Regions from separate parts of the Homo sapiens genome. Here region 1 is linked to region 2. The links come from fine-mapping of genetic effects on gene expression. Tissue or cell type: whole blood. Region 2 holds a variant in brackets; the other region holds the start of a gene. All regions are shown on one strand. Distances are from middle to middle.

Region 1 (2,606 bases), 150 kb before region 2:
ATCTTCTTCTTCCTTCCTAAAAATCCCAACACCTCCAACAAAGGTCTACAGTTAGATTTTTAGGGGTTTCCTGGTAGAGCACAAATAATCCCAAGGAAGCTGCAGTAACACCTCCTGGCCACCAGAGGACAGGGAGCAGTGGGAGAGATTTGCTTCCCCTAGCAAAGTCTTCAAGAGGCCAGAGGCACAGGCTCAAAGTTGCTTCTCCATCTGTGGCCTTCAGGCTTTACCTACTACTGCCAGAGGTGCTAGGGTGCCTCCCATCTTCAAATGGGCTTTTTTTTTCCCTCCTATAAAAGATGGGCCAGAAGTTCCCAGGGCCATACCCCGCAACACTAACCTTCAATGATTACCAATCATAAGGAATGCCTTTAGTTGCAGGACTTAAAGGCAGAAAAGTAGTAACAGGGGTGTATTATCTTTCGAACCCACCCAAACCTGCTTATCAGTTCTTTTGCTAGTGGAAAAACGTGCTTTAGGCAGGGTGCACATGGATATCCCACAGCAAACAGTGCCTTTAGGGTCTAGTGTCCCAATCCGGCACATTGTAAATGGAATATTTGAAGAGTTAGATTATTCCTACACATAAATTCTGGCTCATGGAGCAGTCCACTCGCAGGGTGCTTTTCCGTCATTAATCACATCTTTGTTATGTGATATCCACGTGAGTACTTCTCAGTAGAAGCAGCTTCATGCTCAAATGCTCAAAGAACATTGGAATAAAGCTCCGATTGTCCTATTCAGTGATTCCAAGTCCTGGTTTGTCACCACCTCAGGTCTCTCGTTTTCCAAAGTGCATAATGTCATCTCAAAACAGACATTTTAATGAATTCAAATAATAAAATGCACGAGGTATGTGGAGTTAAATCAACAAGGGTTTTGTACCTCTCAAGAGGCGGTTAACCCCTGGTCTTATTTAAAGATGTTTCTGCGCTGCCTCCTGTAGAAAACATTTTTAAAGAAAATGTAGGCTGCTTATCCTTGTATTTGTAAATATAAGCAAAGTAAAGTAATGTAGGAACATTTATGTGGGGGCTTTCAACCATAAACATATAGATAGCTGAATGCCTGACAACAGTAGTGTGATTTTTCTTGAAGTACCTGTAACTTCTCTCCTGAGAGATGGCAGAGCCTTGCCTTTTGCATTCGCCAGACTTTTTACAGAGCGAGTGTAATTCTCTCAAATCAGTGTTTGCGTTTTTTGACGTTGGTGAGGCAGCTGGAAACAGCTCAAGGAGGAGGGAAAGGTTCTGCGTCTGGGTGAGGGAGAAAACCCTCCGATACCTGTTGGGGCGCAGCACTGGAGGCGGACACCCCGGCCCGGGGGTCGGGGCCGCGAGCCCGGGGGTAGGGGGCGGGCGCGCGGGCGCGGGAGGAGGAGGAGGAGGAGGGAGAGGTGGGGGAGGAGGCCGCGGGGCCGCCTCCTCCGGCAGCTCCGGCTCCTCCCAGCGGCGCCCGCGGAACCTGCCTCAGAGTCGCCGGACTCTGGAAGGGAACATGACCTGACCCCTCCCCGAGCGGCCGGAACGAGGCGCGGAGCCGCGCTCCGGGCTCGGGCGGCCGCGGGATGGGCGAGCGCGCGGCCCCGCCCGGCGCCCACCGCCCTGCCCTCGCCTGTCTCCTCCTTTCCCCGGGGCTCCGCTGAGTTCATTCACTGGGATTGGTTTCAAGTGACGCCATCTCTTTATTTTTAAACCAATGACCTCATCCGCGCTTGAAGTTTCCTGACCAGCGACTCTTTCTCTTTCCCCCAACCCCCCACCCCACCCCCCCGCCTTTCCCCCTCTTTCTATGTATCAGTGTTTGGGGGGCTTTAATCAGTTTTTAAACGATTATTACCACCTCTCTCTCCCCCCCAACCCCCACTTTCACAACGCGGCCCCCCACCTTTACCTCCCTAAGTTCTTCATCTCTTTCGACATTTTTTTTGAAGGCTGATGGGGGGGAGGGTGGAAGAGAAAGAGTGAAGAAAAGTTGCGAGCGTCTCCTCTCTTCCTAAGCCTCCCGCCCCAACCCACCCCTCAGAGAAGGAGAAGATAATATACTGAAAAGAAGAGGAGGAGGAGAGCGACGGGACGGGACGCGAGCGGGAGCGCAGCCGCCCTCTCGGCTCCGCGGCGGCGCCTCGCAAGTCCGGGAGGCGAGGGGGGCCCGAGGGGAGACGCCGTGACAACTTTCGTTTCCCTCTGAGGGAATTGGGAGGTCGGCGGCCCCAAAAGTAAGTGGCCTTGGCGGGCCGCGCGGGGTGTGCGGGCGGGAGGGTGCGGGGCCCGGGGCGCCCTCCCGCCCGGCCGCATGGACGCTCCGCAGCGCGCCCCGACTCCCGGTGCCGGGCGCCGCGCTCCAGCCCCGCCGTCTCTGCCTTCCCGGGCGTACCGGCCACCCTTTCGGGAGGCGGCGTGGGGGCGACCGCGGCCGGGGGCCGCAGGAGCGTTTGAAGCGGGGGTGTAGGCCTGGCCGGAGGCTGGCCGGAGCGGGAAGGGGGCGTGCGGCCGGGCGCGGGGTCGCAGTGGGTGCGCTCCCGGCCGCTGCGCGGCGCTTGGACCGGGCCCCGCCGAGAGGAGCGGCCGCCGCGGGACGCGGCACCTTTGCGGGCGAAGCTGCTC
Region 2 (2,760 bases):
CTCCTTAAGAGTCATCACCACTCCCTAATCTTAAGTACCCAGGGACACAAACACTGCGGAAGGCCGCAGGGTCCTCTGCCTAGGAAAACCAGACCTTCCCTCCACTATTGTCCTATGACCCTGCCAAATCCCCCTCTGCGAGAAACACCCAAGAATGATCAATAAAAAAAAAAAAAAAAAAAGAGTCATCACCAATCCCCAATCTCAAGTAATCAGGGACACAAACACTGCGGAAGGCCGCAGGGTCCTCTGCCTAGGAAAACCAGAGACCTTTGTTCACTTGTTTATCTGCTGACCTTCCCTCCACTATTGTCCCATGACCCTGCCAAATCCCCCTCTGTGAGAAACACCCAAGAATTATCAATAAAAAAAAAAAAAAAAAAAAAAAAAGAAAACCACAAAATCATTTCAACTGATGCAGAGAAAGCATTTGAGAAAATTCAACACCCTTTCTTGATAAAAACAAACAAATAAAACACTCAACAAACAAGGAATGGAAGGAGACTACCTCAACATAATAAAAGCCATATAAAAGAAATGCAAGCAAACTTCATATTCAATGGTGATGACCTGAAAGCTTTCCCTCTAAGATCAGGAATAAAGCAAGGATGCCTGTTTTCACCACTTCTATTCAACATAATAATGGAAGTTCTGTCAAGAGCAATAAGACAAGAGAAGAAATAAAAGGCATCGAAATTAGAAAGAAAGAAGTTAAATTATGTCTGTTCACGGATGATATGATCTCATATATAGAAAACCTGAATGTTCCACAAAAATACTATCAGAACTAATAAATAAATAAATTCACCAAAGTGGCAGGATACAAAGTCAACATGCAAAAATCAGTTGCATTTCTATTCACTAATGAACAATCCAAAAAGGAAATTAAGAAAACAATTCCATTTCCAATAGCATCAAAAAGAATAAAACACTTAGGAATAAACTTAACCAAGGAGATGAAAGACTTGTACAATAAAAAAAACCATAAAATACAGCTGAAAGGAATTAAAGAGGACACATACAAATGTTAAGACACCCCATAGTCATTGATTGGAAGATTTAATATTAAGATGTCAATATTACCAAAAGTGATTTACAGGTTCAATGCAATCCCTATCAAAATCCCAGTGACTTTTTTTCAGAAATAGAAAGATCCATCCAAAAATTCATATGGAATCTCAAGAGATCCTGAATAGCCAAAACAATCCTGAAAAGAAGAACAAAGCTGGAGGACTCACTCTTCCTGATTTCAAAACTTAAAATTACAGTAATCAAAACAGTGCAGCATTGACATAAAGACAGACAAATGGACCACAGAAATGAGCAGAGGGCCCAGAACAAACCCTCACATATAAAGTCATATGATTGTTGGGGGCACCAAGACCATTCAGTTGGGAAAGGACAGTTTTTTCAACAAATGCTGCTAGGAAAGCTGGCTATCCACATGCAAAAGAATGAGGTTGGACCCTTACCTACTACCATATACAAAAGTTAATTAACAATGAATCCATGACCTAAATGTAAGATCTAAAACAATAAAAC[G/A]TTTAATGTTTTTTACTATAGTTTCCTATAGTGAGAAAACGCAGGCAAAAGTTTCATGACACTGAATTGGGCAACAATGTTTTAAGTATGACACCAAAGGCACTGGCAACAACAAAAAAAGATAGATTGGACAATGAAAATTTTAAAACTTTATGCATGAAAAGATACTATCAACAGAGTAAAAAGGCAGCCCACAAAATGCAGAAAATACTTTCAAATCATGTATATTTTATTATATACATTTATTATATACATGTATATTATATCCAGAATATATAGAGAATTCCTAAAACCCAACAAAAAACCTCAAACAACCCAATTCATAAATGGGCAAAGGACTTGAACCGACATTTCTCCAAATAAGAGATACAAATGGCCAATAAGCACATGAAAGAACCAATGTGATACGGAATGGACAAAAACTGGAAGCATTCCCTTTGAAAACGGGCACAAGACAGGGATGCCCTCTCTCACCACTCCTATTCAACATAGTGTTGGAAGTTCCGGCCAGGGCAATCAGGCAGGAGAAGGAAATCAAGGGCATTCAGTTAGGAAAAGAGGAAGTCAAATTGTCCCTGTTTGCAGATGACATGATTGTATATCTAGAAAACCCCATGGTCTCAGCCCAAAACCTCCTTAAGCTGATAAGCAACTTCAGCAAAGTCTCAGGGTACAAAATCCATGTGCAAAAATCATAAGCATTCCTATACACCAATAACAGACAAACAGAGCTAAATCATGAATGAACTCCCATTCACAATTCCTTCAAAGAGAATAAAATACCTAGGGATCCAACTTAAAGGGATGTGAAGGACCTCTTCAAGGAGAAGTACAAACCACTGCTCAATAAAATAAAAGAACACACAAACAAATGGAAGAACATTCCATGCTCATGGGTAGGAAGAATCAGTATCATGAAAATGGCCATACTGCCCAAGGTAATTTATAGATTCAATGCCATCCCCATCAAGCTACCAATGACTTTCTTCACAGAATTGGAAAAAACTACTTGAAAGTTCATATGGAACCAAAAAAGAGCCCGTGTTGCCAAGTCAATCCTAAGCCAAAAGAACAAAGCTGGAGGCATCATACTACCTGACTTCAAACTATACTACAAGGCTACAGTAACCAAAACAGCATGGTACTGGTACCAAAACAGAGATATAGACCAATGGAACAGAACAGAGCCCTCAGAAATAATGCCGCATATCTACAACT

Evidence for each region. PIP is the estimated chance that this variant, and not a neighbour inherited with it, causes the effect.
Region 1: DUSP16 starts here. The variant in region 2 is fine-mapped to the expression of DUSP16 in whole blood (TOPMed, PIP above 0.99).

What each region holds. Positions count from the first base shown.
Region 1 is chr12:12,561,729-12,564,334 of GRCh38, reverse strand. DUSP16 (dual specificity phosphatase 16) reads left to right here and starts at 1,472. Exons shown (of 7, transcript NM_030640.3): 1 at 1,472-2,218. RefSeq lists silencers at 1,163-1,672, 2,123-2,202, 2,233-2,352, 2,373-2,572.
Region 2 is chr12:12,410,531-12,413,290 of GRCh38, reverse strand. All of the region lies in intron 2 of BORCS5 (BLOC-1 related complex subunit 5), which reads right to left. Among named protein-coding and RNA genes, the nearest start is that of BORCS5, 55 kb to the right of the region's middle. The variant G/A (reference allele first, on the strand shown) is at 1,543.